Linked DNA regions of Homo sapiens: region 2 is linked to region 1. The links come from fine-mapping of genetic effects on gene expression. A gene starts in region 1. The other region holds a variant in brackets. All regions are shown on one strand. Distances are from middle to middle. Region 1 holds the start of ATF7IP (activating transcription factor 7 interacting protein). Region 2 overlaps ATF7IP (activating transcription factor 7 interacting protein).

What was found. PIP is the estimated chance that this variant, and not a neighbour inherited with it, causes the effect. A credible set is the group of variants that fine-mapping cannot tell apart.
Region 2: its variant is the best candidate, but not a certain one, in a credible set for the expression of ATF7IP in whole blood (TOPMed, PIP 0.78).

Annotation. Positions count from the first base shown.
Region 1 is chr12:14,360,499-14,369,760 of GRCh38, reverse strand. It overlaps ATF7IP (activating transcription factor 7 interacting protein), which reads right to left and starts at 4,079. Exons shown (of 15, transcript NM_018179.5): 1 at 3,934-4,079. LOC124902884 (a long non-coding RNA gene) reads left to right here and starts at 2,571. Exons shown (of 2, transcript XR_007063220.1): 1 at 2,571-4,412. RefSeq lists enhancers at 2,364-2,503, 3,860-3,919, 4,390-4,449, 3,681-4,498.
Region 2 is chr12:14,431,386-14,440,647 of GRCh38, reverse strand. ATF7IP (activating transcription factor 7 interacting protein) reads right to left here. Exons shown (of 15, transcript NM_018179.5): 3 at 6,225-6,311; 4 at 4,397-4,542; 5 at 2,381-2,518. Among named protein-coding and RNA genes, the nearest start is that of ATF7IP, 70 kb to the right of the region's middle. The variant G/A (reference allele first, on the strand shown) is at 4,771.

The DNA of each region.
Region 1 (9,262 bases):
AACTTATCTTAACACACAATATGTCAAAACACAGATATGTCCACATAGATGTAAAAGTATTTTTTAAGTTTATTAAAACTTCCAGAAAAAGTTCTAGTAAAAAATTAACAAAACACATGAACAAGGCTGTGCACGGTGGTTCACACCTGTAATTCTAGCACTGTGGGGGCCAAGGCAGGCAGATCACCTCAGGTCAGGAGTTCAAGACGAGCCTGGCCAACACGGGGAAACCCCGTCTCTACTAAAAGCAGGGCATGGTGGTGCACGCCTGTAATCCGCTACTTGGGAGGCTCAGGTAGCAGAATCGCTGGAACCCAAGAAGAGGTTACAGTGAGCCAAAATCACACCACTGCACTCCAGCCTGTGAGACAGAGCTAGACTCCACCTCAAAAAACAATAATAATAAAATAAAATACAATATAAACATACAATTCACCTTACAACAGGTAATATTTTCTGGGCAGACAAGTGCTGTAGAAATCATAAAGGAAAAAGGAAAGGCAGTACAGGCTGGACATGGTGGCTCATGCTTGTAATCTCAGCACTTTGGGAGGCTGAAGTGGGAAACTCTCTTGACCCCTGGAGTTCAAGACCAGCCTGGGCAACATAATGAGGCTTTGTTTATTAAAAAAAAAAAAAAAAGAAAAAATTAGCGGGGTGTGATATCCTTCACCAGTAGTCTCAGTTACTCCAGTGGTGGGAGAATTGCTTGAGCCTGGGAGGTCGAGGCTGCAGTGGGCAGAGATCACTGCCACTGCACTTTAGCATGCGCAGCAGAGCAAGATCCTATCTCAAAAAAAAAAAGGGGGGCAGTACATTTTACTACATAAAAATGCAAAACTTCTTAACATATACAATCATAAACCACTTAAAAGGTAATTTTAAAATTACTGTGACAAATATTAAAAGCTAAGGACCCCAAAGCCGTAAGTAGCTGTTACCAACAAATAAGAAAAACAGTAACACTCATCATAGAAAAATACACAAAAAGTCAAACAGCTAATTCACAGAAAATGAAAAAAATGCATATATAAAACAATAACAAATTCAACTTCACTAGTTATCAAAAAAAGTTAATGAGCTACTATTTTTCACCCATCTAATTGATGGTGGTATTGAATATGATAAAAAATGCTTTTCAAAAAAAAGTTTTTATCAATTTTGCAAATTACTTTAAAAGTCCTTTGAAAGTAATTTCAAAGAAATATTCTGAGGTATAGTACAAGAACGTTCACTGTAGCATTATTTTTAATAGAGAAATGAGCAAAAAGCAAAACAGGAAACAAAAAATGAAAGGTTTAATAAATCACAGTAAATTCTTCTTAGAGATAACAATAATATGTAACCATTTTAAAATGTGTTTAAAAAGAACATTTGATCATGTGGGATATTATAATAAAGTATCATGCAACCATTTAAAGACATATTTTAGAAGAATAATGAAATGGGAAAATACTCATAACATTAAAAGAGTAGAAATGAAATTATGGTACCAATGAAAAACTAATTAATAAACATTTATAGATTGCTCAATCATGGAAAAGTGAAGTCACAAATCACCAATACCTTTAGAGTGGTTATTTCTAAGCATTGTTAATTAATTTTCAATATTTTCCAAATGTTCTATAATGAATAAGTTTAAAAATATTTAAATACATTTATCACATATGCAAAACCTAATTTAAAGAAAAAATAGTTCTAATTGTTTAATAACTCAAACCTGTCTTTTCTAAACTACATATAAATTTTTAAATTTACAAAACTACAAAGATTTTAAATAACTTCAGTAACTTGGTATTCATTCCTGGAGTAACCTAGTCTTAATATTTATATATGTTGGATATGTGTCAAAATTTTGTGGCATCATAACCACCAAACTAAAATTTTAAAATATACTTGTTATTGACAAAGTACTAATAAACAAATAGTTGGTGTTCAGGCAATTAATTAATCTTATTAAGTTTACATGATTATATCTGCCTTGTAAGAAACATGACAGCAAAATCGTCCCATCAATAAATATGTTCTTCATATTCAAGAGCATTTTCAAATACCTCTTACTACCTTCAATATTAACCTAAAAAGCAATCATCTGTATATTCAAATGAAAACATACGCTTATATACACCAAACTATTTCATTTTTCTGGAAATGTAAAGTGTACCATGCCCTAAGATCAAAGATCAAAGTTCTTTTGTTAACCGAAATATTTATGTGTATGTTCAACTCGAAAATGCCTGAAATAGCATGTGGTAGAAAGGGGCTGCTAGGTAACCACTCCAGAAACATAAAAGGGAGAAAATTACACAACTGCTCTCTAAATATACTTCTGTGTAGAAGACCTCAGAGATCCAAGAATTACATCAGGTCAAATATTCTCTTGAGAAAAAAAGAAGAATCTTTCCTACCTCCATTCTATCTCATATGTGACGTCATTTAAAAATCCACCAACCAAAAGTATTACTTTCAATTACATCTAGGTAATATTTACTAATGGTATTTGTTTTAGGCAATAAAAATTTCCCTAAATTAACCGAGATTATAAAGCAAGAGGCACGTCTTCATTTGACAGTAGACTGATTCAAACTTAAAGAGTTATAACCAACCAAGAAACCAGTTGTTGTATATATGAACCACAAATGAAGTCTATGGAAAACATTTGCAAGTTTCTTTGCTTAGTAAGAAAGAATTTGCACAACGGGAGAATCATATCAAATCTTATATAACTTCCCCCAATTGTGTTACATAAGATTTAACTATAGTTGACACTACCATTTTAAACTAATCAGTAGCATATTTATAATTACCTTCCCTAAAAAACTATTAATAAAACCAGGAGCACACTTACAATTAAAAAATCAAACACAACTGTATCTTACACACATGCATACAGTACAGTGTTTAAAAGAAAAAAACAGATTTTTTTTATTAATGGTCCACTTTCTTCAAAGAGGCCTCAGGGTAATGGATGTTCTTTCTAGAATTCTTCATCAGAAAAATTTACCAAATAAATGTTATAGCTTACATATCATAGCAAACAAAAATGCTAAGAAAATGAGTTGATTAATTTCAAAAGTAACAATAATCTAGCTGAAGCAGTAATGAACAAGTCACCTAAGAAACTTAAAACATGTAAAATTCAAATGCCCAGAAACATACAAACTGATTAAAATTAAAACTTTATTTACTTAGGATCAAACATTTAAAACCAAAATAATCCTCAGATTGAGATTTCATTTTCGATTATACTGTAATTTCTTCCACTATTCCCGTTCCCCCAATATTCCCAAAACTAAAATTGTTTCTGTTTTGTAAACATTCCACACATCCATAACAGAACAGGTAAAAATAGGGTTAAAAATGTATTTGCAAATATGCAGTTCAAATAAATGCACTTCCCGTGAGAACACCACTAGGTGCTGATCTTTACCACCGTAAATATAAACCTGAATCCAGTAATACTTTAAAACTGAAATTATAATCAAGAACCACAAATGAAAATCATTTTTACAGAAAATTAAGTCCACAATTTTTCAAAAAATCGAAAAAACAGAGAAGAGCTTGAGGTCGGCCCAGGAGTACAACATTAGAGTAATGTTTTTCTTGAAAATTGTGAGAATTTAAGGTTAACACAAAGAAACCCCTCAAGAACGAGGAAAATTAAATCTAGAACCCAAATGGCGTCCAACAAGAACATTAGATCTTGAAAATGAATATTGCGCTTGCGCAGCCACCGCCCCGCCAGCTGCACAACTGCAGCTAGAGCCCGACCCCGCAAGATCACGTGCTCCCATGCAGCGCCGCCCGCAGCTCCGCAACCGCGCAGGCGCAGACACAACTCCCGCAGCCGCCATAATGCGGTCTTGACTCTTCAGAAATACAATAGTAATTTAAGAAAATGTGGTTTTAACAGCCCCTGGGATTCACATATACCTTTTGGGGCGGAAGCTGAGGGAGGGGGAACCAAGTTCCTTCCTACAGAGCCGTCCCGCGCAGCCGTCCCCGACGTTGCCGCCTCAGCTTTTCGCGCGCTTCAGTCGCCGCGCCGCCGCTGCCACCGCCGCCGCCTCCGCAGATTCAAAAACAAACCCGCTTCTCCCTTGCACGCGCCGGGGCCGTTATGCAAATTAATATGGGCGGGGCTCCGGGGGGTCGTGCTATGTACCCCGCCCACTGTGCTATCAGCCAATAAGCTCAAGGACTAGCCATTCCCCATGCAAATTCTGGTTTTTTATTTGAATGAGGGACATTGGCCCCGCCTCCTGCGTGGAAAAGAGAAGGAAGCCCGAGGTGGTGGCGCTGCGTCTCTCAGTTGCAGTGTGAGGTGTGTTTTTTGAGTGGATCTTCCTCAATCAATAAGTAGCACTTTGTGAGCGCCCTCTATGAGGCTTAGAAAAGAAAGAAGGAAGGAGGTAGGTGAGAGTTTAAAGAGCAGAGGGAAAGATTTTCATAAAAGCCAGGAGTATGTTGATTTATTCATCATTTATGTTTTAAATTCACAGAATGTACTTTGAATTGTATTAATAATGAAGGAATGAAAAAAACATACTTTCTTTCAGTTGCTTGGTAACAGAGCAAGCACTTTTTATCATACTCTCTCACCAGAAGTTGTATTCATCCCATTTATTCAATTTCATGCTGGGAGTCGGCCTTTAATGAATTCCACAGGAGGTAGTGGACAAGTCACTGCCTTACTGGTTAAGAGATCTGGGTTCAAGTTCAACTACTGCAGCTTCCTTGCCGGTTCCTCGGAATAAGTGTGTTACTCAGTTTTCTCACCTGTATAATGGCAATCATGACTATAGTTGAACTAGGTTGGAAGCACTAAATGATAGAATAAATGTACATATGTTTTGGCCAGGTGCCGTGGCTCAGGCCTGTAATCCCAGCACTTTGGAAGTCTGAGGGGGGGTGGATCACCTGAGGTCAGGAGATCAAGACCAGCCTGGCCAACATAGTGAAACCCCGTCTCTACTAAAATTACAAAAATTAGCTAGGCATGGTGGTGCGTGCCTGTAATCCCAACTACTCAGGAGGCTGAGGCAGGAGAGTTGCTTGAACTGGGACCTGGGAGGCCGAGATTGCAGTGAGCGAAGATCTCACCACTGCACTCCAGCCTGGGCTACAGAGCAAGACCCCTTATCAAAAAAAAAAAAAAAAAAAAAGAATAAAAGTACATATGTTTTGCAAGGCAAGAATAGCCTGAAAATAATATTAGATGGTACCGTGTGGTTATTGTTTTTTTATGTAACTTCTCATTATATGAATGTATTGGTTCAGTATTTATTTAGCAATCACTGTGTTGTAGATCTGTTAGGTGCCTGTCCTCAAGAAATCTGTACTCTAGTGAAGAAGACAGAAAACTGAACAAGAAATTTTTGTAACTAATAAGAAATTAGAATAGGGTTGTTAATACTTATTTTTATAACTGGAACCATTCAATTTACTTAAAATATAAGGTGGCCTTTAGAAATATCACCTAGGGCCGGGTGCAGTGGCTCACGCCTGTAATCCCAGCACTTTGGGAGGCCGAGGCGGGCAGACCATGAGGTCAGGAGATCGAGACCATCCTGGGTAACATGGTGAAACCCCGCCTCTACTAAAAATACAAAAAAAAAAAAATTAGCTAGTCGTGGTGGCACGCGCCTGTAGTCCTAGCTACTCGGGAGGCTGAAGCAGGAGAATCACTTGAACCCGGGAGGCAGAGGTTGCAGTGAGCCAAGATCACGCCACTGCACTCCAGCCTGGGCAACAGAGTGAGACTCCATCTCGAAGAAAAAAAAAAGAAATATCACCTAATCCAGACCTAGAGAATTAGAAAAGCCTTCCTAGAAGAGGTCATCTCTATCATGATAAATGATTTAATTAATTTTTTGCCTAAAAGTTGGACCTCATTGGGACAGCAATGAGGAATCATTTAAAAGGTTTTAAGTCGGGATATAACACAATTAAATTTGCATTGTTTAATCGCTAAATGTTGTAACATCATTAGCACAGTCCTTAGCATATACTCAATAAATTATAGATGCTCAATTATAATTTATTTATTATAATTTTCATAGTACATCAGTGCTCAATTATAAGTAGATGCTCAGAAAATTAGAAATATTGATATTAAATGTTACACTCCATAATAATAAGAGAAATTGGATTGGAATACTAGAGCCCATTATGTTTCTCTTTTTATGTCTTCTGTAAGCATATAAAAAAGAATCATTTTTATAATAGTCTATTCTTTTTTTTTTTTTTGAGACAGAGTCTTGCTCTGTTGCCCAGGCTACAATGCAGTGGCGTGATCTCAGCTCACTGCAACCACCACATCCCGGGTTCAAGCAATTCTCCTGCCTCAGCCTCCTGAGTAGCTGAAATTACAGGCGTCCACCACCGCGCCCAGCTAATTTTTGTGTTTTTAGTAGAGACAGGATTTCACCATCTTGGCCAGGCTGGTCTCAAACTCCTGACCTCATGATCCACCCGCCTCGGCCTCCCAAAGTGCTGGGATTAAAGGCGTGAGCCACCACATCTGGCCTTCTTTCTTTTTTTTTTTTTTTTTTTAAGACAGTCTTGCCCTGTTGCCCAGGCTGGAGTGCAGTAGCACGATCTCAGCTCACTGCAACCTCTGCCTCCCAGGTTCAGCGATTTTCCTGCCTCAGCTTCCTGAGTAGCTGGGACTACAGGCACACTCTACCACGGCCGGCTAATTTTTTGTATTTTCAGTAGAGATGGGGTTTTGCTATATTGGCCAGGCTGGTCTCGAACTCCTGGCCTCAGGTAATCTGCCCACGTCAGCCTCCCAAAGTGCTGGGATTACAGGCATGAGCCACCATGCTTGGCCTATGATAGTCTATTCTTGATTATCCATGCTAATAGCAAATGGAAAAATAATTCAGCATAACCACAGATTTATCAGTTTTCTTAGATATGCTCATATTCTAGACTTGCCTCCTGAAGACTCCAACTAGACAATTTTATTGGATTCGAATCTCCTCAGATATCCTCAACCACAGTTACAGTCTCTTCAGCCATGCAAACCCGCTGGTTGACCTAATCAACTATTCATTGATTTGTTCAATGAATACAATATTTATAATGTCTCACAAACTATTCTGGGCACTGGGGATGCCCAAAGGAAATGACACTGTTTCTCATGGGGAAAGAGTTGTAAATACAGATAAACATTATGAGATCATTAATATTTTGGTGGTATGTCTTAAGCATAAAAAAATTCTAAAATGAGAGAACCTAAATCTTCCTCATACTATATGGGAAAACTTCACAGAGGAAGTGATACTTGACCTGACTTATGATGTAGAACTTTGTACCTAGGCTGTCAGACTAGGTACAAAAGAAAGTATTCAAGTTAGAAAATAACAGAAAATACAAAAACAATGAAGAATGAAAAAAGCTGAACTTAAGACTTCTAGGTAGGACCACATTTAAAATATTTATCAATCCCTATATCACTGACCAATCAGAATGGAAGCAGGCTTGAAGACTTCCCTCCCCCCACCCTATTTTGTCAGGTGTTAATTCTTTAGTTGTAGGATCTTGAAGAGGTCCAGAGGCTCTTCAGCTGGGGACTGAGCCTGACTTGGTGGTATGAAGGGTGTGGTAGGATGGGGCAGCTACTTACCAGTTAGTACAAAAGGATTTTCATATTTTATCTACCATTATGTTTTTATTGGTATATTTAGGCTAAAATGATACAGGCTAAATATAATTTTCCTAGGAAAAAGTGCTAGAGTAAAGTAGGATCATAGAACCTGTCTCACAAAAAAAGAAAAAAAAAAAAGACCTAAACTAAAATAATAAATATAAACCAATACATTTCAGTTGTAGCAACTGAACAAAGAAAACAGAACTTTTTAAAAACAGCATAGGCCGGGCGCGGTGGCTCACACCTGTAATCCCAGCACTTTGGGAGGCCGAGGTAGGTGAACCACCTGAGGTCAGGAGTTCGAGACCAGCCTGACCAACATGTTGAAACCCCATATCTACTAAAAATATAAAATTAGTCCCACGCCTGTAATCCCAGCTACTTGGGAGGTTGAGGCAGGAGATTTGCTTGAACCCAGGAGGCAGAGGTTGCAGTGAGCTGTGATCATGCCATTGCACTCCAGTCTGGGCAACAAGGGCAAAACTCCATATCAAAGAAAAAAAAAGAAAAACAGCATAAACTCCGAAAAGCCATTGAAATGGAAAACTGAAGTTTCTGAGTACAAAATAATAAAACAGGAAGCTTAATCTAGTGCTTTCAGGTTCTGAAGGCTTACTACCTGAATTGAAACCTTGGCTCTACTTCTTACTTGTTTAGTGTCCTGAAATTCTCTACGCAAATGTTTCCCAGTCTATAAAATGGGGATGATAAAAATAGCCCTCCCGAGCAAGCACAGCTCATGCCTGTAATCCCAGCACTTTGGGAGGCAGAGGCAGGTGAATCACTTGAGCCTAGAAATTCCAGACCAGCCTGGACAACATGGCAAAACCAGTCTCTACAAAAAATACAAAAATTAGGCTGGGTGCAGTGGCTCATGCCTGTGATCCCAGAACTTTGGGAGGCCAAGGTGGGCGGATCACTTGAGGTCAGGCGTTCAAGACCAGCCTGGCCAACATGGTGAAACACCGTCTCTACTAAAAATACAAAAGTTAGCCAGGTGTGGTGGTGCATGCCTGTTATCCCAGCTACTCGGGAGGCTGAGGCAGGAGAATCGCTTGAACCTAGGAGGCAGAGGTTTCAGTGAGCCAAGATGGTGCCACTGCACTCAAGTCTGAGCAACAGAGTGAGACTCGGAATCAAAAATTAATTAATTAATTAATTAATATAAAAATTAGCCCAGTGTGGTGGTGCATGCCCGTGGTCTCAGCTACTTGAGAGGCTGAGGTGGGAGGATCGCTTGAGTCTGGGACGTGGAGGTTGCAGTGAGGGGAGACTGGGCCACTGCACTCCAACCTGGGTAATGGAGTGAGATAGTCTCCAAAATAAAAATAAAAAAAATATGGCTAGGCGCAGTGGCTCACGCCTGTAATCCCAGCACTGTGGGAGGCTGAGGCCAGCAAATCATAAGGTCAGGAGTTCAAGACCAGCCTGGCCAACATGGTGAAACCCCCGTCTCTACAAAAAATACAAAAAAAATAGCTGGGCGTAGTGGCAGGCGCCTGTAATCCCAGCTACTCGGGAGGCTGAGGCAGGAGAATCACTTGAACCTGGGAGGTGGAGGTTGCAGTGAGCCGAGATCGCACCACTGCACTCCAGCCCGGGTAA
Region 2 (9,262 bases), 71 kb before region 1:
AAACAGTTTGGTATCTGAATTTTATTTCCATAAAAAAACAAAATACTGGAACAAGACACAAAGAGATGGAATTAAATTGGGCACATGATCATGGGTGAGTGAACAGGGGAAACAATACGAAGTCAAAAGCCTGGTATCAAAATACAATAAACATTAATAGTACCCTGTAGGACAGTGAAGCAACTGGTGGATATTAGAAAAAGTGGATTGAAAATTAAGAGATTAAAATTTAAAAATTTTAAAAATGAATACTGGTTTTACCGGTACACAATTGAGGAACTTGGACTATAAAGAGACTGAAGTAATCAGTATTTTAGAAAAATTAGTACAATGCTTTGGAAGGACCAGAAAGAACTTAAAAACTAGTACCAGAGTGCTCATATAAAAGGTGTTACTATAATCAAGGAATTGGGTAATGATGGCCTAATGAAAAGTGAAAAGAATTGAGATTTATTTTTTCTAGGAAATAATCAAGTTGTAACTTGGCAACTCACTGTGTATATGAAATGATTGAGAGGGATCGGTTTCCAAGAATTCAAGAGCTGCCAATAAGAGGAACAACGGGAAGATTTTCCTTCAAGAGTTTTCCAAGAATTCAGAAATTGTCAGTAACAGGAACATTTGCAGAGAAGATGATTGGCTTGGTGTTAGAAAGATTCAAATTCTGAGACTACAAGCAACATTTAAGTACAAATTTAAATGTTAAGAAATCTGGATTGCACCTTATGTGTGAGATGATAGGTGTCGAAAACTGTTTTAGGATGGATGGATGGATGGATGGATGGATGGATGGATGGATGGATGGATTTATTTTGGAGACAGAGTCTCACTCTGTTGCCCAGGCTGGAATGCAGTAGCCCGATCTCAGCTCACTGCAACCTCCACCTCCCAGGTTCAAGCAATTCTCATGCCTCAACCTCCAAAGTAGCTGGGACTACAGGCATGCACTACCACACTCGGCTAATTTTTTTGTATTTTTAGTAGAGACAGGGTTTCACCATATTGGCCAGGCTGGTCTCTAACTGCTAGACTCAAGAGATTCACCTTCCTCAGCCTCCTAAAGTGCTGAGCTCACAGGCGTGAGCCACTATGCCCAGCCAAAAACTTAGGTTTTAAAAACACAATTTCATAGTTGCACCCGTGGGTGTGATGAGAAACAATGAATAAAATTATTCTTTCAAATCTTCAGGCATTTTCAAATTTAATTCAAAAGTCTGAACAGTACTAGTAAAATGAAGTTTAATAATTAGATAGGTCAGTCTGGGAGACACACTTAAATTCTAATCCTATTTAGCTAAAATTTTATTCGTAACGGAAAAAGTGATTTGACTTCCATGGGCCACTTTTCCTTCATTTGCAAAATAAGGCCCTATACATGGTTTACCACTCAGCATCTTTGGGATATGCTCATATATAAAATAACCCAATAGGAACCATACACTTACTTATGACAGAATGAATGTACTGATTCAAATACCAGCTTCTTAGCTTTGGAATAAAGTAGATTACTACAGCACACTACTGTGTGCTCATTTCAGCTGACCAGAAGCTCTGGTATTGTATGTTAAGATATAGTTGTACTTAATAAAAAATGACAAGTAGAAATTAATAAATACGTGTTATTAAACTAACATCTTTAAAACATAAGGTCCACGAAAGGAGGTAGATTAACATAAAAAGAATCCCTAACAAATATTATTTAGTACTTATTATAGCATGCTAAATGACAGCCTTCCTTTAGTGACTGGAAAAAAAAATATGAAGCACTAAGTTAGATCCAGGAATTTCTGAGTCTCCGTTATGGTTTGAACTGTGTCCCCTAAAAGTTCACATATTGAAGTCTAAACTTCCAGTATTTCAGACTGTGACCTTATTTGTAAAGAAGGTCATTGCAGAGGTAATTAGTTAAGATGAAGTCATGTTGGAGTATAGTGGGCCCCTACTCCAATGACTGGTGTCCTTGTAAAAAGGGGAAATTTACAGACACACATACAAGGACAACACCATGTAAAGATAAAGCCAGAGATCAGGGTGATGTTTCTACAATGCCAAAGAACTGTCCGCAAACCAACAGAAGCTACAGTAAAGGCATAGAACAGATTCTTCCTCACAGCACAGCCCTCAAAAAGAATCTACACTGCTGACACCTTGATCTTCAACTTCTAGCCTCCAGAACTGTGAGACAGAATATTTCTACTGTTTAAACCACTCAGTTTATTGCACTTTCTTTACAGCAGCCCTGGCAAACTAAACAAACTCCTTTTCCTTCTTACATTTAGAATTTAAATGTATTTTATAGTTAATCTCAAATATATATCTCAGAAAATAAGTTATAAAAACAATGACACATGGAGTATACAACTCAAGTCAATGTACAAACCTGTAGTTCAGTGAGAACTGTTTTATGCCTCTTGTTACATTCAATCTTTTCCACTCGTGTTTTCAATTCTGCCAAAGTCTTATCAAATACAGCACACTGCAGCGCACACAATTTTTCTTCCAGCAACCACTGTATAACCTAAAGAAACAAATATTCCTTCATTATGCCAAGAAGGCATTCCAGCAAGCAATAAACAGTAAATATTCTTTTTTTTTGAGACAGAGTCTCGCTCTGTCGCCCAGGCTGGAGTGCAGTGGCAGGATCTCGGCTCACTGCAAGCTCCGCCTCCCGGGTTCACGCCATTCTCCTGCCTCAGCCTCCCAAGTAGCTGGGACTACAGGCGCCCGCCACTACGCCCGGCTAATTTTTTGTATTTTTAGTAGAGACGGGGTTTCACCGTTTTAGCCGGGATGGTCTCGATCTCCTGACCTCGTGATCCGCCCGCCTCGGCCTCCCAAAGTGCTGGGATTACAGGCGTGAGCCACCGCGCCCGGCCAGTAAATATTCTTAAGTACCAAGAAGACAGTAATGACAAACTAACTTAATGAATAAAACATGCTAGAATCTGTAACACAATACTATCTGCTAAAATCCTCTACTTTTATATATATAAAATCTACTTCAAGAGGGTAATACATACTAAAAATAGAAAATTTCCAGAGAGTAAACTTTTAAAAAGTTCCATATTCTCATTATGGGTCCACAACAAAGACATTGGCACATACCCATGAACCATACTTGAGTAACACTGTTCTAAAGAAGTAAACTCTCAGGAAACCTCAGTTTTCAAAATTCTTTCACATAGCTACCTTCATAATTCTAACAGCTCTGTAAGAAAGACTGAATAAGCATTATTATCTCCATATGTCAAATAAAAAGAAACTAGGGGAAAAAAACAACACTGAGAGTTTCTACAGCCTCACTATTCTTTTTTCTACAAAGTGCAAATATGTATGCTATATTTTAATGAAAGAATTTTGTCCTAAAACATTGATTGTAAAATGTCATCCTTAAATATATAAGACCTTGAAAAACTAGTTATCATCGAAGTTTAATATTCCTCTCTAAGAAAAGCTTTGTAAAAACATTTGTGAACACATGTTGAAAAACATAAAATACTGAATATTTTCATTATTTCTATCTCTAGTCAAACAGATGTAAGGGGAATTTCAAACTCCGTATTCTAAATACTCCTTTCTCTAGTCCTTTTAACACCCTGTCTCTACCACTTTTATACTAACCCTCAAGTACACAATAAAGAGTTTAGAATGTAGACTTATAACCATGAAACCAGCTTTATAAAGATTAAAATGCTAATATTTAAAACTCTAACATTTCCTTTTCACAATAAGATAAAGTTCAATGTGAGAAGGAAAAAGAAAAGCTGAAAAACAACATTCAGTTTTGTTACCAAAGCAAATAAATAAAAATGTTACCTTCTCTCCCTTGTTTTGATAATCATAACCTTTTTTAAAAAAAAAAAAAGATGTAGCCAAAAAGAAGTCAGAAAGAATTTTAAAATTAAATTATCAAGGATAGTAATAGACTTATTTATTTATTTATTTATTATTTTTTTGAGATGGAGTCTTGCTCTGTCACCCAGGCTGGAGTGAAGTGGCATGATCTCGGCTCACTGCCACCTCCACCTCCCGGGTTCAAGTGATTCTCCTGCCTCAGCCTCCCAGGTAGCTGGGATTACAGGCACCCACCACAACATCCAGCTAATTTTTGTATTTTTAGTAGAGTCAGAGTTTCACCATGTTGGTCAGGCTGGTCTTGAACTCCTGACTTCAGGTGATCCATCCACCTCAGCCTCCCAAAGGATTGGGATTACAGGGGTGATCCACCACATCTGGCCAGTAATAGACTTTAAAAGCTCAACCACTTTCTTCAAGTTCTTTCTTTCTATGATAAACCACATTATGTCAATAAAATACAGAATAATGTCAGAAACCTAGAAGAAGATAGTGGTGCTATTTATTCAATATGGTTTATAACTTATAATTGACACAATACCTTTTGAAGTTTCTGGTTAATGTCTCCTTTGGCTGTAATCTTTACTTGAAATTCTGCCTCATATTCTTCTTCCATATATCGACGACGTTTAGACTGTACATTGTCCATGTCTTCTGATTTAGAACGTTTTCGTCTAGAAAATTCATCTGAGAAGGAAAACCACAATGATCACACTCAGGTGTTTTTCTTATAGCTCTTAATGCATATTATCCATCCTTAGCAAAATATTATTTCTATCATAATAGCCTTCTCAACCAACTATTTTGTAAACTGTTTTGGAGATCTTAGAAGGTATATAGCTTTTAGCTTTAAACTTCAAATGACTTTCAATATACTAAATAAGAACTCCCTAATGGTCAAGCAATGCACACTGT[G/A]AACACAGAATTTCCTTGAAATCTTCATACTAAGAACTGCCTCACAATTGTGTCATGAAGAAGGTAGATGAAATCATCTCATATTCATTCCTGTAACTAAATGTCACAGTGCACATGAATCCTCTGACAAAATATAGTATTCATTCTCATGTCAGATTTTTAACTATGCACAGCTTTAATTATTTATTCTTTTTCCTCCGTAAGTATAGGAAAAAATTCTTAATCATCAGCCTTACAAAACTAGCACAGTAATAGTTATTCTTAACATATCCTAATGAATTTCAAATAAAAATAAAATTAATGTCATTAAAAGTACATTTATAAAGAATATAGACTAGAAGACTTCACTTAGAAAATCTGTTTCACGTGCTGTTAATATTCATGAGATCATAAGCAAATTTGTATCTGGCTTCTTCAATATCTAAAAAAATTAAAACACTAATATCTTCACACTTTTTAAACGCAAATGCTCTTATGTGACCATGCCTATCCCTCTGTATGTGTCTGTATCTATATGCCTACTTGTAAATCCACTCTATTCTACAATTTCTCTTACAATCTTAACTTACCCATGGTCATATATGGATAGCAGCATGACAGGAAAGTTACTGAACCCAGCTTTCCTGACTTCTAGTCCAATGATCTTTCCATAAACCTAAGGACACTCAGTCCATCATTTCCTTCCCTTCCCATAAAGCTAAAGAACCTTATCTTTCCTTCCCTTTTCCTTCCTTCCTTCCTTCCCTCTTCCTTCCTTCCTGTCTCCCTCCCTCCCTCCTTCTCTCTCTCTCTCTCAAGGTGTCACTCTGTCACCCAGGCTGGAGTACAGTGGCTCAATCATTGCTCACTGGAACCTCAAATTCTTGGACTCAAGCAATACTACCACTGCAGCCTCCAAAGTAGCTGGGACTACAGGTGTGTGCCACCATGCCTGGCTAATTCAAATATTTTTTCTGTAGAGACAGGTTCTTGCTATGTCACCCAGGCTGGTCTTGCATTACTGGCCTCAAGCAATCCTTCCATCTTGGCCTCCCAAAGTGCTGGCATTACAGGGGTGAGCCACTACATCTGGCCCCATGAAGATGAAGAACCTTAAGTGAACTAAAATACATCCTTCCATTCACTTACGTTAGCCCATACAAAATTCTTGTAGTTTCATTCTCTAAACATAAATCTAAAACAATTTATCTCAAAACACTCAGTAACTTAGTAAATTTTAAGCTAAATCTTTCTGTGGAACAATAAAAAGTATAAATAAACAAAATAAAATATTGAAGTGTATGAAACATACTTTCAGAAATCCTTCAGTTAGCCATCAACAAAATGGTATAGTTGTGAAATTGCAAAATTTTACAATTATTTCATGGGCAAAAAAGAATATTACACGGTTGTAAATATAGAAACAGTGAATTATTATTTTTCAATCCAGTTCAAGTTTGTTTATACATGCATACTTTTCTCAGAAGGTCTTTCATCATCTTCATGTATTACTTGCTCTTCTTCCTCAGGTTTGTTGTCCTTTTCATTACTTTCTACTTCTGCTGTTAACAAATATAGAAAAGAAAATCTTACTTCTACTAGAATTCATAACAGCTCACTAATTTACATTTTTAGTCACTATCCAGTTACAAAACCAACCTTTTATGAAATCAGAGTCCCAAAATGTAAAATTTGGGGAGGGGAAAAGGGGAGCAGGAACTGATCGAATGAATGACCACGTCCACATTCAACTGTTCTGCAATTCAGAACAAACTCAACACAGGATTTAATCTTAATATAGATTTTAAGTAATTTAAAAAAATTACTTAATAATTTTCTGTCACCAGTAACATTAATAAAATGTGAAAACAACTGCTGTAGAGCATTTTGATTCCTTTACATTCAATAATTAAAACTAAAATAGTGCCTGTGACAATTATCAAAAAAATTCCAAACTACTGGAAAATTCAAAACAGGTTGAATCCTTAAGTTACTTTAATGCTTATGGTATAGAGAGTTCATAAATAAGGAATGGAAAGGCTATCCCAAATATAATAAAAACTTTAAATATATACCTACTTTGATAACAGTGCCAACAACTGAGCTAGGTGCTTAATATAGTTATCACATGGCCACAATATAATCTCACACTGTAAACTGTATTTTTTGTCATCATATAGATGAGGAAAACATTCAGAAGGGTTAATTTTCTTTTCTTTTTTTTTTTTGAGACTGAGTTTCGCTCTTGTCGCCCAGGCTGGAGTGCAGTGGGGCGATCTCGTCTCACTGCAACCTCCGCCTCCCGGGTTCAAGTGATTCTCCTGCCTTAGCCTCCTGAGTAGCTGGGATTACAGGCACCCGCCACTACATCCGGCTAATTTGTTTGTTTGTTTTTGAGATAGAGTCTCACTCTGTCGCCAGGCTAGTGTACAGTAGCGCAATCTCGGCTCACTGCAACCTCCACTTCCCAGGTTCAAGCAATTCTCCTGCCTCAGCCTCCCAGGTAGCTGGGACTACAGGCACCTGCCACCAGGCCCAGCTAATTTTTGTATTTTTAGTAGAGACAGGGTTTCACCATGTTGGCCAGGATGATCTTCATCTCTTGACCTCGTGATCCACCCCCCTCAGCCTCCCAAAGTGCTGAGATTACAGGCATAAGCCACTGCACTGGGCCTAAATTTTTTTTATTTTTAGTAGAGACAGGATTTCACCATGTTGGGCAGACTGGTCTCAAACTCCTGACCTCAGGTGATCCTCCCACCTCAGCTTCCCAAAGTGCTGGGATTACAGGCGTGAGCCACCTCGACTGGCCCAGAAGGGTTAATTTGCATGAGTCATATAAAATGTAACAACTGAAGAGTGCTGCCAAAAGATATTGCTAAAAATGTCTATACAATTATATTAAATAAAATCCAAGAGGTACCAAAACGTTCTTTTGGTCAATCAATCAATGTCTCTTCAACTAACCTACTCATTAAATGAGGAATAAGGGAGCTACAAAAAAAAATTCATTAAGATGTTTGACTTCTATTTTCCCCCTTACGTCATTGCAACTTGCTTCTCAGTGGCTTCAATAAAGCATGCTATGTTTCATCACGTTCTGCAACTAATATTAAATAAACAATCATAAAGTATATTATGCTATATAAAGATTCTGATAAGACATTTCTTCTCCAATCATCAGGATTTTAATCACAACAGCCCTAATAGCAAAAGTCAAGGTTAAAAAAATTTAAAAGATATTTTAGGTGAAAATAGGCAAGGACAAGGATCATTGATGAATACCTATTAAGGCGCTAGAAGTATTTTTTTCACTGTAAGATAAACAATAAGCTAACACAGTACACAGAATTACTAAAACTATTTTTGAACTTTAAAATAAATTATTTGAAAATTAACTCTCCATTTACTACCCTTTGCTCATTTTAAGTGTTTTAAGACCTCATCTCTCAACCTCAGTTTCAGTGAAATAAAAATTTGTTTGCTTTCTTGTAAACAGATCACAAACTCATTAAAATACATTTTTCTTTCTATATTTTTCCATATCTTTCTGATTTTAATACTCATTGTTAGTAACTCCTGAGCTTCCTAGTCCCCAGAGTTTCCAGAGAGACAGAGTAACTGGGATGCTTGAGATGAAAGGTTTACATAGTCTTTATTTAGCAAATCCTCACATCGCACAAAGCACAAAATTAGCCATGGCTCCAATTAGAGTGACTCCAAGCCAGAGCATCCAGAACACAGCAGAATAAACTGGCCTGCTATGGTTTGCCTCTTTTATACGCATGTTAGTTTCCTCTCCATATGTCAAGCTCAGCTTGAGATTTCTTCATTTTATTCAAAAACCTCCTCCTATCACCCAACTCCCAGTTTCCAGATATGCTTAGAAGATATTACTGGATCCCCAACACTTAAAACACTCAGAATTCACAGAATTAAAATAGAGTTGCTAGAGTTTTTTGTAACGGAAAGAACTTGGGATTTAAAAAATGGTATTAACAAATTCTACAGAGACGGGTAGGGCCTTATATTTCTTTAATTTTATTTTGTCCACAAAGCCTGAAGAAAAACTAAGAATGGGTCTCCTTCAACCCAGAGTAATAATCAAAGGCCCTTGGTACACAGACAACTTTAGACATAATTTCAGGTAGTTCCTGGGACTCCTGAAACTCATCCAAATAGTAGGTTAACAATGTCTTTTTTACTGCCGGGTGTGGTGGCTCACACCTATAATCCCAGCACTTTGGGAGGCCGAGGCGGGCGGATCACAAGGTCAGGAGATCGAGACCATCCTGGCTAACATGGTGAAACCCTGTCTCTACTAAAAATATAAAAAATTAGCTGTATGTAGTGGTACATGCCTGTAGTCCCAGCTACTCGGGAGGCTGAGACAGGAGAGTCGCTTGAACCCGGGAGGCGGAGCTTGCAGTGAGCCGATATCGCACCACTGCACTCCAGCCTGGGTGACAGAGCGAGACGCCATCTCAAAAAAAAAAAAAAGAATGTTTTTTTT